3 separate regions of the Homo sapiens genome follow, and regions 1 and 3 are each linked to region 2. Evidence: fine-mapped expression QTL. A gene starts in region 2. Each other region holds a variant in brackets. All regions are shown on one strand. Distances are from middle to middle.

Region 1 (6,552 bases), 160 kb before region 2:
GTGGTGGCTAGAAACCCCACATTAGCCATAAGACCATGGTGCTAGGTCTGTATTGAGTTAATAGTTTCTATTTTTAAAAATAATTTAGTCAACCAGAAGACATCAGTTAATTTCAGTTTTTTAATAGCTCTTCTCTGTATGTGGAACAGAAACAAGGATGGCCTTGAACTGCCATGTATATGAGAATAGCTGTGTATTTATTTGGTAGGACTTAAAAAATATTTTAGTTGGTTCAAGTTAGGTGATTTCAAGATTTGTAACTGAACATTGGAAAAATTAACTTTTCTCTCTAGATCTATCTACTTTCAATATTCAGCTGATTTTTCAAAATATTAGGACTTACAAAATTATATTTAGATTTTAGAGAGTATTATATGTAAGCGGAGAAGAAGTACTTTAAAATTTTAATGTACGAGTAGTAAAGAAGGATAAATTTCTATGCAGCAGATAAAGAATTTTCTTCTCAGGGACTCAAATAATAAATCCATTTGTAATATCACTGTTCCTTGTGCAGTTTGCTCTGTAAAATGGAGGAAGGTGAGAGGGGTGCCATGTTTCTGTCTCATACCGTTTTTTGTTATAGAGTGTATTCATGGTTATACTGTATAATAATGATAATAAGTTCTTAAACCGTGGTGATGAGATCTATTTGGCAGAATGTTTTAAAATAAACAGTGTATTTCCCACGAGTGAAATCTTAAAAAACAATTAATTTCCATTATAGTAAGGGTGAATTTTGCTCCTTCAAAGAGTATAGAGCCTGGTTGAATTTGCCCATTAAGAAAAAAAAATGTGTCTATTGGACTGTGTTGTTTGTAAAGCTAGAATCACCTTCCAGTGGCGTTTTCCATCCTTACAGGAAAGAGGTTTATCTCTGAATATTGAGAATGGAGGTTCATAATGGGCATTTTAGCGTTTGAATGTTGTAGGAAGAAGATGGCTAAATCTTCACTGCTCCCCTAAAGTACACACGTTAGTTCTGGTGGGGAGTAGCCACTCTGAGATTTTATATCAGAGACATAATGAATGGGACCCATGATATGTGAAATTCTAATTCTTTAGTACAGAGAAATGTGCTCTTCATCTTTCTGTCTTCTGAGGCTTTTTTCAAGTGTTCGAAACTGCCGTTGCAAAACTCTAACTGAGACAGTGGAAGAGATCTGTACTAACCAACTCCATCTTGCTTCTAACCTCCAAGCAGTCCTTGCTCTTTCCTGGGCTTAGGCCAAACTAACTTTGAGAGGGACTTAGTTTGTAGTTTAAAACAAAGATGATAACAAAACCCCCTTCTTGCCTGGGGACTAGATTGCTTTTGTAGGACTAGCAAATTAACCACAACATTAGAAAATATGGTTTAGGAGTCATGCTGCTGGAGGCTGCAAGATTCTAAACCTCCCCAAATGGTTCCTGGGAATAACATCACTATTGCAAAACCTAAGATGAGTGCTTGTGACATTTTGCAGACCCTGTCCTCGATGGATCATTTGGCACCACCCAGATGGATAAACTGGCTTATCTGGTCTTGTGGCCCCCACCCAGGACTGACTCAATGCAAGAGGACAGCTTCAACTCTGTATTCATCTCCACCCCTACCAATCAGAACTGCCAACTCAGTGGACCCCTACCCAGCAAATTATCCTTAAAAACTCCAGTCCCCAAATTCTTGGGGAGACTGTTTTAAGTAATAGCAAAACTCTGGTCTGCTGCACAGCCAGCTCTGTGTGAATAACTTTATTGCAATTCCCCTGTCTTGATAAATAGGCTCTGTCTAGACAGTGGGTGAGGTGAAACTGTTGGGTGGTTACATCTTCATTAAAGGAGATGAGCATTTTTTTCTTTAGCTTGGATAGTGTTTTTCATCATTTTTTTCATTATTCCCATCCCTTATCAGGAATTTTTTAGATTATTTATTTATTTATTTATTTTTGTGACAGGGTCTTGCTCTGTCCCCCAGGCTGTAGTGCTTTGGCATGATCACAGCTTACTGCAGCCTTGGCCTCCCAGGCTCAAGTGATCCTCCCATTTGAAGATGAATGGCTGGGACTACAGGCATGTGTCACCACACTTGACTAATTTTTAATTTTTTTGTAGAGACGGGCTCACTTTGTTGCCCAGGCTGGTCTCGAACTCATGGCCTCAAATGATCCTCCTGCCTGGGCCTCCCAAAGCACTGGGATTACAGATGTGAGCCCCCTCGCCCAGTGTGACCCTTTTTTTCCTCCTAATTGCCCACCCATGAAATTTTCATGCCATAGATACATTATATATCTATGCTAATATGAAAAAGAATACAATTTTTTGCCTCATCCCCAAAATGAATTTTCATTCCTTGTGGGGGCAATATCACCCCCATTGTGTATGTACAAGGAGACCTGGCTGGGTGGGTAACTGGCCTAGGCGTAATTAGACTTTGATGCAGGTCATTCATTTCCTTATTTATTTAAGAGCCTTGAGTCTTTTTGATATTTTTCTGACATAGACCACTATTAAAGGGTTCTTGCCTTAGAGGGTAGGCCAATTTGTTCATTTAAAGCATGGGCTTTGGAGTCATACCCACTTGGTTCAAGTCCTCTTGGTTTCTTCATTTTTTTCCTGTGCCACCACCAGCAAAACTTTAGTTTATTCACCTGTAAAATAGGGCTAATAATAGTATCTACTTCAAAAGGTTGCTGAGGAGGATGGAATGAGAAAGCAAATAAAGCACCGCACCCCAGAAAGAGTAAGCCATCCTCCCAAAATGTAATTTTTAGCTGTGTTAGGGTTTAGAGTCATCACCTCTGCATTTTAAAGATTAGGTTGTGTTCTTATGGTACAAGATTCAATAGTGATGAAGATATTATGATAAAAGCATCATAGCTGTGTGACTTGATTGAGTTGTTTAACTCTTGGGGCCCCAGTTTCCATATTTTTGTTAATTATGATTGAAAATACAAAATAAATTGACTGAAACGTCAAATATGGTAGTAATCCCAATAAATGCAAATGGATTATGCTTGCCGACTAAGTGACAGAGGCTCTTGGGTTAGATTGAAACAAAGAGAGGCATACCTAAGACAAAGTGACTCTAGAAGTGTGAACTCAAAATGTCTGAGACAAGTCTCAGTCAATTTAGAAAGTTTATTTTGTCAAGGTTAGGGACACACCAGTGACATAGCCTCAGGAGGTCCTGATAACATGTGCCCAAGGTGGTCAGGGTACAGCTTGCTTTTATACATTTTAGGGAGACACAGTACATCAATCAGTACATGTAAGATTTACATTGGTTTGACCTGGAAGGGCAGGATAGGGGCAGCCTTCCAGGTCATAGGTAGATTTAAATTTTTTCTGATGGCAATTGGTCGAAAGAGTCATTATCAGTAGAAAGGAATGTCTGGCTTATG[G/A]TAAGGGGTTGTGGAGACCTAGGTTTTATCATGCAGATGAGGCCTCCAAGTAGCAGGCTTCAGAGAGAATAGAGTTTGAGTATTTCTTATCCCACTTAAGGTCTGAGTTGATGTTAATGCTGGAGGGGGATGGATAGTGAGGCATGTCCATCCTCCCCTTTTCCATCATGGCCTGAAAGAGATTTTCAGGCAACTCCGGGATGCCCTTGGCCAAGAGGGCCCATTCAGATGGTTGGGGGCCTTAGAATTTTATTTTTAGTTTACAGAAGGTTTGAAATAAGGGGATAGAAAAATACATACCAGGCAAATATTACTGTCAATCAAAATAGAGTTCATATGTTAATAGAGATACAACAATATTTCATAATATTAACAGCTCATCTGGAAGATAAAATAATTATGATCTTGTAACATACTCAGGGAATGAGAAAGAAAATCTGATAATCATAGTGGGAAATATTACTATACTCTGTCATTGATAAATAAAAGTTAGTACAGCTATAGATTATTTGAAGTCCAAAATACTTTATTAACAAGAGTTTAGTAATTTAATAATTATTAATAGGTCTCAGAGAACCTTTCCCTGTCAGGATGATCTGATTTTGTGAATTTTGGCTGAACTGTATACAGCTCTATGGTGCCTTTTTTTTTTTTTTCTTTTGAGACAGAGTCTCGCTCTGCCACCCAGGCTGGAGTGTAGTAGCGCTATCTCAGCTCACTGCAACCTCCATCACCCGGGTTCAAGCAATTCTGCTGTCTCAGCCTCCTGAGTAGCTGGGATTATAGGCGCCCGCCACCTCGCCCAGCTAATTTTTGTATTTTTAGTAGAGACAGGGTTTCACCATGTTAGCCAGGCTGGTCTCGAGCTCCTGACCTCATGATCCGCCCGCCTCAGCCTCCCAAAGTGCTGGGATTACAGGCATGAGCCACTGTGCCTGGTATTGTTTTTTTTTTTTTTTAAACAGTGGATATGTTTCTGTAAAGCTGCAGTACACTGGATTGTTTTAAAAGTGAAGGCTACTTTAATAATAGACATTATATGCTTGTGACTTTTCTTGTGTTGTTAATTATCATGCCGTGACTTTTCATGTGTGTCTTTATATTTATGAGCAGAGAACTCTGAATGTTTGGGATGCAATCTCGGTCCTTTTTTGGCACTAGCCCCATGTACCTGAGTAATAATAGGTCAGACAGGTTATTAAGAAACAGTGGTTTCTTGCATGTTCTCACTCATAGGTGGGAATTGAACAGTGAGAACACTTGGACACAGGGCGGGGAACATCACACACCGGGGCCTGTCATGGGGTGGGGAGATGGGGGAGGGATAGCATTAGGAGAAATGCCTAAAGTAAATGACGAGGTAATGGGTGCAGCAAACCAACACGGCACACGTATACATATGTAACAAACCTGCACATTGTGCACATGTCCACTAGAACCTAAAGTATAATTAAAAAAAAAAAAAAAGAAACAGTGGTTTCTTGTAGATACTCCTTTTTGGCAACTGAACAGTTGAGATAGTTGAAGCAAAATTCTCAGACACACGATTTGCAGTTTGGTGCCTTCAGAGTCCTTAGAAGGCCTTTTTAAAGATAGCATACCAGCATCCAGTGTACACTTTTTCAAGTCTTTTATGAATAAAGTGGGAGTGTTTTAAGTGTTTGCAGAACATTTGGGTCTCTGAATTCTGCCAAAGTAATTGTTACATAGTTTTCTTCCTCGAAAAGGACTGGCAAACATTGGTCACCTTCTTCATTTTATTTAATTTATTTGAGCCTTTTAAGATTGGGTATTAAGGAAGTGTGTGTATATGGGTGTGTGCATATGTGTAGTGCCAATGAAAATTCCATGTATTCTCTATTTGTTGCTTTACTCTCTGAAATCTGAGTAGTTCAGACAAAAAATAATTTTTTTACAAGGGTAAAAACTAAATTTAAAAGGGAAATCTAAATTTTATTATGTGTATGGAGAGGCACCTTATAAAATATTCACTCTTTCATTAGCAGCCTATTTTAAAAAATGTGACTTCCTTGAAAGCAGAGTGTCTACCAGATCTATCTAAATCAGAGGAGTATATGTTTCAGGCGTTGTGACTGATGGAGATAGTACCAGAGTGGCAGCTCCAATTGACTTTGCCCCTGTGCTCTCACCTCCCAGTCCTCCCTCTGCCACCTGTCCAGGCAGCCCATTTAGAAACAAATAATTAGCAAGCACTTAATGTTACCAGGCACCCTGCTAGGAGTTATAAAGACAGAATGATGGGATCATGACCTCAAGAGGCCATGGCTTATTGATGGTAAGTAAATAGAAGGTTTGTAATTATGAAGCAGTCTTTTAATGATAGGTCAGCGGTGCATAAGGTGTCGGAGGGAGTGCATGTGGGCACTGTCTAAGGTTGTCTAATTCAGACCAGGTGGTGGTGGTGGTGAGTGATTTGAGGAGGTTCCTGGATGTAGTGATACCTGAGCTAGGATTTGCAGGAAGAGCAAAGAGCTGTTCCAGGTGATAGGTTTGGAACTGAGACAAGAACATGATTCTTCTCTCTCAGGAGTTGCAAGAGCTTAGGACATGGATAGTGGGACCAGGCTAGAGAGATGGGCAAGGTCCTCGTGAAGAATCTCATTTTCTCTCCTAAGGCTTCTTGGCATTATTCTGATGGCATTGGGAGCCATTTGGTAGATTTTAGTTTTTAGGGGGATAAAATAACTGGAATTACATTTTAGCACGGTCCCTCTGGTAGCATTGTAGGGGAATGGATTAGGGATTACAATGAGAGATGAGGAGCTGGAATGAGAAACTCCTGCTGGAACTAACTCATGAGATTTTCAGGAGGTACGAGTTACCTTAGGGCCACCCTGTGGAGCGAGAGGGAGAAATGAAAGGTGACTGCGAAGGTTTGTGTCTGGGGCGGCTAGGAGAAGTGGGGATGCCATTCAGCGAGGGAGTGGTGGAGGAGATGCAGGGCGTAGAGGTCGGGGCTGTGAGTTCGGTGTTCGACAGGCGGAGTTAGTGATTGTTAGGAGACACCTGCACCTTGCAGGGAGCAGCTGTCAGCACCGGGTAACCAGCAAAGACAGAGAAGTGGATGATGTCACCAAGGAAGATTTTGTAGAGTAACAGTAGAGGATGCTGGAAAGTAGCCTGGGGATTATTGTTTCTTCATAAAACAAAA
Region 2 (6,552 bases):
ACTTATTAGTGAGGTGTTGTTAGACCCACAACCTGAACTGTCAGCCCAGAGAAAAGAAGACTGAGCTAAGCCAGAGCTGGTAGAACCAAGACCACAGTGCTCTGAAGCTTTAACACGGTCTGGCTGACCCCAGGACTGACCTTCCCCCTGCCTCATCTCCATTCAGCTGCCTTGATATCTTGAGCTGAGAAGGAGGTGTGTGTTCAGGATCTCAGTGGCATCCTGCGCTGTGTAACAAGTGGATGTGTGAGTGTGAACACACTGCATAGGAAAAGGGAGAGAAGCCAGGAGCTCACGCTGGATCTGAACCTGTCAGGACAACTGATTGAAAAAAATCAGTCAGTGATTTAGGTATGGGACTCTGAACCACTGGTTTTGTTTCCACCATTTGTTTTCCTCCAAATGGAATGATTTCATCTTGCTAATATTAATAGGTAACCAACTATAAGGTTGTCCAGGCAGTGTGCTAAGTTTTCAAGTTGCGTTCTCATCAAATCCTTGCAGCAATTCTACCAGGCAATGTCTTCATTGTACAAAGAAGAAAACAGAGGCTTAAAGAGTTAAGTACTTGTACAAATCGCAGCTGGATATTTGAATTCTGACACATCTCTCCAGAGGCCACACTCTCAGACTACACTAACTGTCCCCCACCTAGATTCTTTTCCTGCACTTCTCTGTGGGCTGAGGAATGATGGTCATGGAACCAGTGCCAGCTGAGAGGGCATCTCATGTGTGTAAGCTGTTGCCCCAGTCGTGGGCTTTCAGAGAAAGGACTGGATACCCAGTGTCATGTCCACTCAACAGCCATGCAAGGCTGGGTTCTTGAAGCCACAGCTCTTCACTGACTCCTTGAGCATCCATGTGACTCTAGAGTTTAGCTATGCAAGTGCAAGCTTTGCTCTCAAATACATGTGCAATGTAATTAGAGGATAGCTGATGCCTGATTCACTGGCCTTACAAATCTGTAGCTGCCTGGATTTCAACTGTCAATACATGCTGAAGTCCTTTTCGGATCAAATTTAAGTTCAGATAAAGAGTGTGTGGTGGGGACACAATAAATATTTGGAAGGAAGAAAAGATGGAAGGAAAGAAGTAAGGAAGGAGGAAAGGTAGGGCAGAAGGACCCTCCAAACAGCTGGGTACTCTGTAGCCTCAGAAGGTTGGCAAGATAAATCACAGCTCAGCATAAAGCCTATGTCGGTGTCTGGTGTTTAAAAAGTGGGGAGGAGAGGCTCAGCCCACAGCCTCTGTGGACAGGTTTTCTTTCATCTGCTTTCTAGCCAAAGGATGTGAAGACAAGCTACAGGAACTGATGGGCTGCAGCTGAGATAGGTCAGATTTTCACTCTAGCCCCCTGAACTGGCCACAGGGCCCCTTCGTTCCCTGACTTCCATCATTGCTCTTTCCTGTGATGTCTGACCTCCCCTGTGTCACTGCATCTGACTCTTGCTGCCTCCTCAGCACCTGCGGCCCCATCTCCTCCAAGTTCTGAACTGCACAGGCATCTTCTGAGGTACAGCCATGTTTGGGTGCCCAGCCGGCTCTTCCTGCAGGTCTTCCTGCTCTCCTGATGTCCCTCAGCTCACAACCTCTCTTTTCTAGCAGAGCATAGAAAGACAGGAGCTGACTTCTGGATGCCTGGTCATCATTTCCTTCTTTAGTTCCATTTTACAAGCCCAGGTGCTGTATGAAAAACAGGGCATGCTAACCCTGTCTTCCATCCACTAGGGCGGAGCTGACGGTTAAAACAAGGCTCTTTCCCATGCCAGCAATTAGACCTCCATTTCTCAGAAGAGGAAAGAGGGGAAGCGTGAACAGACAGAAGGGCTCATTTTCTGTTTGTCAAAGGAATAAATGGATTAAGGATCCTTGCATTTCAAGATGCATTTCAAGATTTCAGAGATGGAGTCTTGATAAGACAGTGAGAACTGACTGAGAGGGAGCTGCACCCAATCACGGGGCCACGCACCCAGGGACAGTTGCACCTATATGGATTGTTTCCCAGCCAAATGATGTTCTGACCATTAACTCAGGCATCTGGGATTCCCCAAAGAAACAGATGAGTAGCATCACTTGGGGGACTTTATTTTTAAAAATAAAAATTCAGTTCCTTAAATAGGCATTTGGTGACCTCATGTTTTTTTAGTGAAACATGTTGGTAAGAGATGCAATATTTTGAACAGGAAAGACAGTATGATAAAAGCATTCTTGGGCCAGGTGTGGTAGCTCACACCTGTAATCCCAACAGTTTGGGAGGCCAAGGCGGACAGACCACTTGAGGTCAGCAGTTCAAGACCAGCCTGGCCAAAATGGCACAACACCATCTCTACTTAAAAAAAAAATTAGCTAGGCCTGGTGGTGCACGCCTGTAATACCAGCTACTTGGGTGGCTGAGGCACGAGAATCACTTGAACTTGGGAGGTGGAGGTTGCAGTGAGCTGAGATCATGCCCATGTACTCCTGCCTGGGCAACAGAGAGAGACTCTGTCTCAAAAAAAAAAAAAGCATTCTTCCTTTTTTTTTTAACTCTAACAACCCACTGGCCCACATGCCTCAAATCCTACATAGTTAAACATCACAAGTACCTATTCTGCATACAATTTTTACTTACATATGCATCATAAACATTTTGCTGTGTTTCTACAAGACTTTGTGATGCTTATTTCAAGGACTATTGGTAGTTTTCCACAAGTTGATGCAGCATCAGGCATTAAAATGCTCCCCAGATGCTGAGCATTTAGCAATAACACCATTCTCCACCAAAGAGGCTTGTGTTCCCAAAATTACAGCTCTTGGTTCTTTTTGAGAGCAGTTTTCTGGGGGCATAAACTGCCCCCTGGTATGGCTACTGCACAGACCATATTCCCCTTTAATCACGTGCCTTGGTGCAGGGTACGCATCTACTAACCACTTTCCCCTTGTGGAAATGTTCTCCCAGGGGAGTCATTCTCCTGCCCAGCCTCAGAGAGAGCCTTGATCTCAGCCGCTCTGACAGCTTCAGTCACTTTACATTTCAGGAAACTGAATATAGGTTCTAATCTCTTTGCTCTCTAAAAGCTTCTGGGGTCCTAATGCAAATTTTATCACCCCTAGTTTAACACACTGTAAGCCCACATCAATAATTTTCAAACACAAGCACACAAATAATTTTTATCTTACCAAACACCCTCCCAAGCTTCTTGGCAATTGCCAGGTCAGAAGCTAAGGACACGTTTACAGATTTTTGCTAAATATTCCTATTACTCCTTTCCAAATTACTTTCCAAACAGTGTATCCATTTAGTTACTAGCTATAAACAAAGGTACAGTCAGTCCTCACTTAAGGTTGTCAATATGTTCTTGCAATCTGAAAGTAAGTAACACCAATTTTACCACAAGCAAATTAATATTCCTATGGTTTATTTCTAGTCACAAACACATCAAAATTCTAAATAAAAACCAAAGGCCGGGCGCGGTGGCTCATGACTGTTATCCCAGCACTTTGGGAGGCCGAGGCGAGTGGATCATAAGGTCAGGAGTTCAAGACCAGCCTGACCAACATGGTGAAACCCCGTCTCTACTAAAAATACAAAAATTAGCCGGGCATGGTGGCGCATGCCTGTAGTCCCAGCTACTCAGGAGGCTGAAGCAGGAGAAACACTAGAACCTGGGAGGCAGAGGTTGCAGTGAGCCAAGATTGCACCACTGCACTCCAGCCTGGGCAACAGAGTGAGACTCCGTCTCAAAAAAAAAAAACACTTCTGATATTAACCACTGAAATAAATATGAGCTATACATACATTTAAGAAAGATAAATAAAAGCAAGTAAGATAACTTACTCAATAATAACAGTTCTCTAGGTTGCCGGAGTCTCCAGTCTCCGGTTGCTGTAGCTCATTCCAGCAGCTCAGGGCTTAAAGTAAGAACCAGCCCTGAACAGGACACTGTCACATCGCAGGGCACACTCACACACACCCCACACTCACACCAGGACCATGTAGACATGCCGGTGAACTGAACATGCACCTCTTTGAGGGGTGGGAGAAAACCAGAGCATCCAGAGCAAAACCCCTGTGGACGTGGGGAGAGCATGCAAACCACACAGACAGTGGCCCTGGCAGAGAATCAATTTTTTTCTCATCATTAAAAAAAAAAAAAAAAAGTTGAATGAAATGACATTATCTGAGGAACTGTTCTCGTTGTTGTGCTACAGAAACAATTGTTTTTGTTTTTAGTAACTATCATATGGCACCTCAAGCTGTGAGTTTCTTTGACTGCTAGCTAGGGTCAACTTTTTCTCCTGTTTTTGTCATCTTTCTTTTTTCTCTTTCTTTCTTTCTTTCTTTCTTTCTTTCTTTCTTTCTTTCTTTCTTTCTTTCTTTCTTTCCTTCCTTCCTTTCTTCCTTCCTTCCTTCCTTTCTTTCTTTTTCTTCTTTCTTCTTGCTTTTTTTTTTCCTTTTTGTTGAGATGGGGTCTTATCTGTCACCCAACCTGGGGTATAGTGGCATGATCACGGCTCACTGCAGCCTCGACCTCCCAGGCTCAATCGATCCTCCTGAGAGCTGGGACTACAGGGATGTGTCACCACTTTCTTTTTGAGTGAATTGAATTGTTCATTCATATCTGATTTACTGAGGGTTCTGAATCACAAGCCACAAAAACCAACTCTGGCTAATTTAGCAGAAAAGGAACTTATTAAGGCTCCCAGAATCTCCAGGAGGACAAGGGCACCAGGCTTAGGGCTTATACAGCCAGGAAAAATGTCCAAAGTCCAGCCTAGGGCAGGCTCCTGGAACTCGTCACTGGACTCTGACACTGCCAGGTGCCCACCATGACACCATACTGTGCGCAAACCCTGCTGTGGGAATTGCTGTCTTTGACAGCAACACGCTGCTGCAGTGACAGCTGTCCCTGCCACTGCCCTCACAGAACAGATTCTGCCAGGCTCCCCTCTGCACATGACCAGCCTCTAATTCAAAATCATGCAGGTGTACAATTGACAGATACTGGCCATGGATCTGTGCCCTTGCTGCAAGTGCAGCTGGGAAAAGACCTCATATTCTGCAGAAGGAAGGTTCTGCCCCTTGAGGTTACAGATTCTGCAAACACAGGAACAGCGTTTAAAAAGTAGCTGGCTGTGTGAATTTCCCTTTGCTGCTATACCAAATTACCACAAACTTAGTGGCTTCAAACAACATAAATTTATTATCTTACAGTTCTTCCATAAGTAAGAAGTCTGACACAAAAACTCACTGCATTAAAATCAAGGTGTTGGCAGGGCTCTTTTCCTTTTGGGATGCTCTAGAGGAAATTTCAATTCCTTGCTGTTTGCAACATTTAGAAGCTGCCCACATTCCTTGGCTCATGACCCCTTCCCCATATTCAAAGCCAGCAATAGTGATCAAGTCTTTCTCACACTGCATCACTGTTGCCATCCTCTGCCTCCTTCATCTACTTTCAAGGACCCTTGTGATTATATTGGGCCCACCTGTGTAATCCAGGATACTCTCCCTGATATGGTTTGCCTCTGTGTCCCCACTCAAATCTCGTTTTGATTTGTAATCCGCACAGGTCGAGGGAGGGAGACCGTTGGACCATGGGGGCGGTTTCTCCCATGCTGTGGTCATTGAGTTCTCAGGAAATCTGATGGTTTTGTAAGTGTTTGGAAGTTCCTCCTTGCTCCACTCTCCTGCTGACTTGTGAAAAATGTGCCTGCTTCCCCTTCCACCATGACTGTAAGTTTCCTGAGGCCTCACCAGCCATGCAGAACTGTAAGTCAATTAAACCTCTTTCCTTTATAAATAACCCAGTCTCGAGTAGCATCTTTATAGCAGTGTGAAAGCAGACTAATACAATCCCTATTTTAAGGTCAGCTGATTAGCAACTTTAATCCCCCTTTGCCATGTAATGTTAAACATATTTGTAGTTTCTGTGGATTAGGATGTGGACATCTTTGGGAGACCATTATTCTGCCTACCACAGTTGCCAAAAACAAAAAAACAATGAAGCTATCCACTGCAACATCCTTAGTCTGCTTATTTATTGGCATCACTATGATTTGCTTATAAATTGAAATGTTTTCTCCAGATTTTTACCTTTTATCAATTACACCAAATGAAATATTTCCCTCAGTCTGCTGTTTTGTTTTTGTATGAAATTTATGTTTCAGTATTAAGGTCTGTTCATTTCCTTGTGGTTTTATTTCTTCAAAACTGAGGACATGAATCTTCTTTCACAGATCTGATAACACATTTATTTTGTGCTTTTTAATACCATGTTTAAATTTAAATAAATTCTTCTGAAATTTGTTTTGATGTCTTTTATAAGGGGTACCTCTACCAATTGTTTTCCCTGATCTCTAGCCGGTTATCCTAATACTATTTACCTAATACTATTTAGTAAACAATCTCCATTTGACCTCTTTTCCTTTTTTTTTTTTTTTTTTTTGAGATGGAGTCTCGCTCTGTCGCCCAGGTTGGAGTGCAATGGCATGATCTCAGCTCACTGCAAGCTCCGCCTCCCAAGTTCAAACGATTCTTCTGTCTCAGCCTCCTGAGTAACTGCGACTATAGGT
Region 3 (6,552 bases), 62 kb after region 2:
ATTCACATGACATTACTCACTTCCCTTAGGTGCCTGATCAGTGTTACCTTAACTGATTACTCTATTTAAAATTCAAACTCTTCTCTAACACATTCCTTATTGCACATCCTTGTTTTTTTTTCCTTAGTATTTCTTTTGATCCATCTTGGCTCTTTAAAATATAAGCTGTATTTGGGCAGGGCTGTTTCATTCACTGCTCTGCCTACAGTTCTCATAATGGAGCCTGGCATGTAGAAGGTGCTTAAGAAGTGTTTGTTGAATGAACAAATGAAAGACTTGTGCATGACTTTTATTTGTTTTTGGATGATACCCTTAGAATTTCTGCTTAGAATAGGACTTCTTTTTTGTACCCCCTTTGACAGGCTATGAAGCCTATAGACACCATCTCAGAATAATAGGCTTGTTTGTTCTGTTTTACACTTTTATTGCAGTGTAATACAGATACAGAAAAGTACATATATCATAGTGTACAGCTGGATCAATTCTCACAAACCCAACACACCTGTAACCTTGCTCACATCAAAAAATCAATACCATCCATACCACAGACAGCACCTCATGCCCTTTTCCAGTGACAATCCCCACTGCAAAGGTGACCTCCATCCTCACTTTTAAGAGCATAGCTTAGTTTTGCTTAAGGTACTTTTAAAAGGAATGGTACAGTTTGCATTCTTTTATGTCTAGCTCCTTTCAGTCAATACTATGTTGATGAGATTCATTTGTGTTTCTACATGCTTATTTTCAGTTCTGTATTTTTTGTTGTGTGGAAATACTGGAGTTTATCTGTTCTACTGTTTATGGGCCTTTGGATGGTTTGCAGTTTCCTTTGGCTACTCGTACAAGCATTCTAGCACAAGTGAACATATATGCAGTTCCACCTAGGAGTGGTATTGTTAGGTCACGGGGTGCACATATGGTACTTGCTAGATACTGTCAAATGGTTTTCCAAAGTGGTTGCATCTGGCCAGATGCGGTGGCTCACTCCTGTAATCCCAGCACTTTGGGAGGCCAAGGTGGGCAGATCACATGAGACCAGGAGTTTGAGACCAAAGTGGTTGTGTCGATTTATACTTCCACCATCACAGAATAGTGTTTTCTCATGTATAAAGTAAAATATATACATATATTCTATAGGAAATTCTTTTGAAATATGGTTATAAAAATAGTTTTAATATGTAGGTATATGTTATATGTGCTTCTTTATTAACACATACAATTAAAAGTTTTAGTAGTTCTTATAATTACTATGATTTAAAAGTAGGGATGAATATACCTGATGTTTGAGATATCTGCAACAAATGTAATGTGATATGAAAATTCTGTGTTTTACCAGTCACAAGGTCGCAGGTGCTGCTAACACTTCTATGGTTTGTTGATTACCTTTTGAATGATAGGAAATCTTAGTGTGTTACAAGTTAGTGAAAATGAAGGTATAATTTTTAATCTAAGTTCATCAACCTCCTGAAATCTATAAAAGGGTACATGGACCCCCAGGTTAAGAAACCCTTAAGGAAAATGACTTACAACAAAGATTTCTTGAGTGCCTCCTGTGTGTCATACCCTGTGTGAGGCGCTGGGGACCCAGCAGCACACAGCACACAGCACACATCTCCTCTCAATGAACTTGCAGTCACGAGGGCAGGAGTCCACATATGCACAGCCAGATATGGTTAGTTACCCAAAGTGTGTGAGAGCCTCAGGACATACTCCTAGCCCATTCATGGGAGGCGGTTGGTGGTTAGGGAAGGCTTTCTGGAAGAAGGGGCATCATTAGATTTAGGCTGTATACCTGTCACTCTGGCTACAGTGTGGATAATGGATTGGAGGAAACAAGTCTGCAAGCACTTGAAGTAATCCAGGTGTGAAGTAATTGTGGTAGAATGCAAAGAGAACTATGAATACGTTCTGGAGACTCTTGATTCCTGGTGATGGATTGGATATGGGAGAGGGCATTGGGAGTAGGGTAGAAAGAAGGCAGGTAGGTGTAACGTAGTGGTCAAGTTTCTGACTTAGTCAGCTGGTTGAATGGTGATGACCATTCACTGAAACAGAATGAGGAGCAGCTTCAGGGTCAGGGGAGATGAGTTCAGCTTTGAACATATTTAGATTGAGGTGTCTGTGAGACATCCAAGAGGTGGTTATACATTTATATGGGCCCTTGCTCAGGAGAGAGCTGTGAGAGTTTCAGTGTATGTGTAGGAGTGGGTGAGATACCCAGAGAAGGTAGGGAGGAAAGAAAAGATCCCAGGGTCAGGACTTTGAGAAAGATCAACTTTTTAGAAACCAGCAGATAAAGGGGTACTTATGAAAGATGGGAATGGTCACAGGGGTAGGAGGCAAACCAGGGAAGTAGAATGCCCTTGAAACCAAGAACAGAGAGAGTGTCAAGAAGATGCTCAGCAGACTCAGCAGAGTAGAAGAAGGTGAGTCTGGAAAACGGCCCAGTGGATTTAGCAATAAGAGGTCATTGATGAATTGCTTTTACTACATAAACACTGGGAATGATGATTTTTCTCTGGATTGTACTTTCATCTGGGTTTTAAGCTTTCTGTTATAGCAATACGAATGTCCAAGGGTCATTTCCTTTCAGGTTTACTTTTCTTCTTACATCTGCTTTATATATTTTCCTCATGCTCTAGTGAGTTTTATGCTGCAGTGGTAGTAGGCAGTCCTTTCAGCTTAATGACTTCTATCTCTAGCAGACTCTAGCTCTTTTTTTTTTTCTTGGGACAATAAGAGATATTGTTACAGATGTTGCTTCTTGGTAAAAAGACTTGCAGGCCTATTTTTCTGCAGAGTAGATATGAACACATTCACTTTGACTGGCCCTGTTTGTGTATGTGAGGGGTTGGCCTACTGATAATGACTTTGCAGGTCATCTTTCTTGCCTTGAGTGAAATTCAGTTTCTAGTCCATATGATAAAAATGTAATAGAAGAGATATAAATTCTATAAATTTATAATTATTTTCTTCCCAGAATGTCAACAACTTGGATTTTTTTATAATCTATGGGAGAAAAATGAGAAGCTACTTAAGTTAAACAAACGTGTTCAGTGCTTACTCTGTAAATGACAGTGCAG[G/C]CCACACGATCACAGCGATCCAGGCAGGAACCACTGAGTGCCTGGATACTCCTTCCCTCCTCATTCTTATTGTCCAGAGAGCCCCAAGTGCAGCTGATCTTGGCCTCTCTATCTTACTGCTTCTGCCCTGGTCCACATCCCTGGTTTTGTGTGGATGGTTACAATAGAGTACTAACTGGCCTCCTGGCTTTGATGGTTACTCCCCTAGCCCATCCTCTGCTCAAGAACCTGGTGAACTTAAACAAAAAAATTCAGATTTAATGAGCCCACTCCTAAGGATTCTGATTCAGTAGGTATAGGTGTGAGGCCCCAAAATCTGCATTTAAAAAGTTGCCATAGAAATATATATATAGGTGTATATAAATAAGTACACACGCACACACACACACACTTCCTTGCTCTTTCTGTTAAGATTACTAAGAAAGCAGTGACACATCAGCACCAGAAACATGACTAGCACCAAGAATTCAGTTTCTAAAGACTGTTCTCCACAAAAAAGAACAGAACTCCTTGGAGAAAAAGCTGATTCTAGGCCTGGGGCAGTGAAAGCACAAGATACATCTGGAATATCTTCTTGTGCTAGAAAATATAGCAGTGCTTAAAGAATAAGGGGAGATATTAAAATGACATGAGAGCCAGCTTGAAGGGACTTCCATTGGCGACATCTGGGATAATTTGAGCATGAATTATAATCTGTAGAATAAAATAAAAATCCTTGCATCCATAGTGATATAAATAACTCAATGGGGAGAAGGCAAAGCTCTTCCTTGTATAGAAAGCCAAGTATTAAATATAGCTGGAATGATGGAGTTAGAAAACCAATGGATGCTATAACTAGTGATGAAGTTTTGTTGAGAAACGTGATTTTACATTGTCCTCCACCACCAGATAGTTAATATTTACAAAGGACAAACAATAAGTACAGTGGAGAAACCTGGCAACCCACCATAACTAAATTCAAATTAACATTCATAACAATGGGACAAACCACACCATTAAAAGAAAAAAAGATTCCTCAAGTGGTTTTAGTCTCCAGAATTTCTGCTCTATGCTAGCACTGGAATTAGTGTTCTGTGGCACAGATCTGATCTGTCTCTGCCTTGCTTAAAAACTCCGGCCAACTCTATTGCTTCTGGAATGCGACCCTACCCCCACCTTTTTGCCATTATCTCTTGCCACAGCTCTGTTTCCCCGACTTTCCTACCTTTGGTCCCATCACCCATACTCCTTGCAGTAAGTCAAAGGGTATATGTGTCTCCATGTTACTGCCCACAGCCTTGCTGCTGAAAGTGCCTTCCAGGTCTCTGGAATCTGAATTTGTGGCAGATTCATATAAGCCAAGAGACAACTACAGTGTCACCATCTCTGTGAAGCCCTCCCTGATTTCATGGGGGCAGAACTAATGTCTGTTTCCTCCTTGCCACTGTAGCATTTTCTCCGTCTCTTAAACACGTCTCAATTCTGCTATGACTTTCCATTTGTGTGTCTCTCCACCCCAGTTATGCAGGCGACTGGCCCCTCTGTGTCCCGGAGGCTCTTTATGTGGTGGAAAAAGCTAGGGCTTCAGTGCCAGTCACACCTAGGTTTGAATCTGATTCTACCACTTCTTAGTTGTTACACAGCCAGCCTCAGCTTCTTCCTCTAGACACACTGGTAGATTGTTATTGAGAATTCAATTCAGTAAAGCATATAAGGAGCTTTGCAAAGTGAGTTGAAGAATGACATAAAAGAGAAAGAAACCTCACTCTAGGCCCTGAGTAAGTTTTTTCACACGTAAGTCCTCACTGAATTTCATCATTGATAGGTCTTTGGAAACTGTGACTTTAAACAAAACAATGTACAACAAACCAATTTTACCATCAGCCGATTGATATAAAGAGTTAAATTCCTACGCATATTTCTGGCCACAGGAAAATCACTAACCTAACTAAAGACCAAAATGCTTATCATATTAAACATTAAAGTAAATGGGAGCTATCTAGATGTTTAAGAAAAGTTAATAAAAACTAGTAAGATAATGATTTACTTGTTTATTCAGTTCAGGGTCCCGGGTGGCTGGAGCCTATCCCCGCAGCTCAGGGTACAAGGTGGGAACCAGCCCTGGACAGGACGCAGTCACGTCGCAGGGTGCACGCACATACACAGTTGCACTCATGTAGCACTCATGGAGACACACCAGTTCACTGAACATGCACATCTTTGGAATGTGGGAGGAAAGCAGAGCACCTGGAGAAAACCCTCGCAGACGTGGGGAGATCGTGCGAACTCCAAATGACAGTGGCCCTGGCCAGGAATTGATATTTTTTCTCATCAATGTTGTAACAAGACAATGTTATTCAAGGACCTGCTGTATATATCTATTATTTTCAAAGACGTATTTTATATATATGCATTTTTCCCTGTAATCCTGAAGAGAATTCAGAGGTATAGTTACATGGCTAGTAACCAACAGACCCAACTTTGAACCTATTTCTGACTCCAAAGCCATGTTCTTTCTATTACATGGGAACTCATAAACCAGGAGAGACAGAGCCAAAATTACCTTAAATAAGAAGCCCATAGTGAAAAATGTTAAGCTAGAGTTGTAGTCTCTAAACTTTTTTTGATTGTATACCTCTCTTGGTAAAATACTCTTGTGCAACTCCCACTATAGGAATATTTGTTTTTTTATATATTTATGTTATATACTTGTATTATTGTGCTAACATTATATTATAAAACACATATGACATTTACATTAAATTTATATGTGAATGCAATTTACATATAAATTTCTTACTATACTCCCCCAAATCATCTTGCACATATCTTTGAAAACCCCTGAACTAGAGAATAGAGGAAGGAAGGTAAATTTGACTAGTGGGGTTTTGGAAGAACCCATTCTGGAAGAGATGGCATTTGGGTGGCCTCTAGGAGGATGTTAGGAAGTTAGCTGGCACACTGGGTGGGGGAAAGCATTGCAGGTTGAGGTCACAGTTAGGATGAAGACAATGCATTGGACAATTCTGGGCATTTACATTGAACAATGGTAGTTGGGCCAGAGGAGAGTTGTGGGGGGTGGGGGGAATCTAGAAAATAATAATGTAGCACACTTAGAAATGCAGCTGTGAGACAGGCGGCCTTCTGAGCTAAAGAGATTGCTTTATGTTAGCAGTCTTTTGTGGGGAAAGGAAGGACCCATAATGGTGGTAGCCTAGAAGAAAACAAGAGCTGGCTGAGTGCCTAAGGGGCCAGAGGAAGGGATGTAAACCCATGGGAATGTCCTTGGGTGGCAAAGTGACCCCGAGGGATAAATTTGCAGGAACATGTAGGTGATTTCACATTTGGACTGGATAAAAATCCAAATGCGGAGGTGAGCCATGGAAGCTTTGAAAGATGTTAGTGACTGTGACTGGATCTGGATTTTAGACATACGGACTTATAAAAAAGTAGCATGGACAGGGGAGTGGGGTGTGCAGAGTCAGGGAGGCCA

Direction of the effects. Alleles are on the strand shown, and positions count from the first base shown. SD is a standard deviation of normalised expression in the study named. Not every link is listed here.
As copies of C replace G in region 3, the expression in sun-exposed skin of the gene that starts at base 4,039 in region 2 goes down (small effect, 0.21 SD a copy in GTEx).

Evidence for each region. PIP is the estimated chance that this variant, and not a neighbour inherited with it, causes the effect.
Region 1: its variant is the best candidate, but not a certain one, in a credible set for the expression of SPTBN1-AS2 in whole blood (INTERVAL, PIP 0.80).
Region 3: its variant is the best candidate, but not a certain one, in a credible set for the expression of SPTBN1-AS2 in sun-exposed skin (GTEx, PIP 0.81).

Annotation. Positions count from the first base shown.
Region 1 is chr2:54,513,623-54,520,174 of GRCh38, forward strand. All of the region lies in intron 1 of SPTBN1 (spectrin beta, non-erythrocytic 1), which reads left to right. It overlaps SPTBN1-AS1 (SPTBN1 antisense RNA 1), which reads right to left. Exons shown (of 4, transcript NR_185881.1): 4 at 5,695-6,552. It also overlaps the pseudogene C9orf85P1. Among named protein-coding and RNA genes, the nearest start is that of SPTBN1-AS1, 42 kb to the right of the region's middle. The variant G/A (reference allele first, on the strand shown) is at 3,381.
Region 2 is chr2:54,676,007-54,682,558 of GRCh38, forward strand. It overlaps SPTBN1-AS2 (SPTBN1 antisense RNA 2), which reads right to left and starts at 4,039. Exons shown (of 3, transcript NR_186176.1): 1 at 3,818-4,039. It overlaps LOC105374653 (a long non-coding RNA gene), which reads left to right. Exons shown (of 3, transcript XR_940104.2): 2 at 5,550-5,749.
Region 3 is chr2:54,737,999-54,744,550 of GRCh38, forward strand. All of the region lies in intron 2 of EML6 (EMAP like 6), which reads left to right. Among named protein-coding and RNA genes, the nearest start is that of EML6-AS1, 9.8 kb to the right of the region's middle. The variant G/C (reference allele first, on the strand shown) is at 3,081.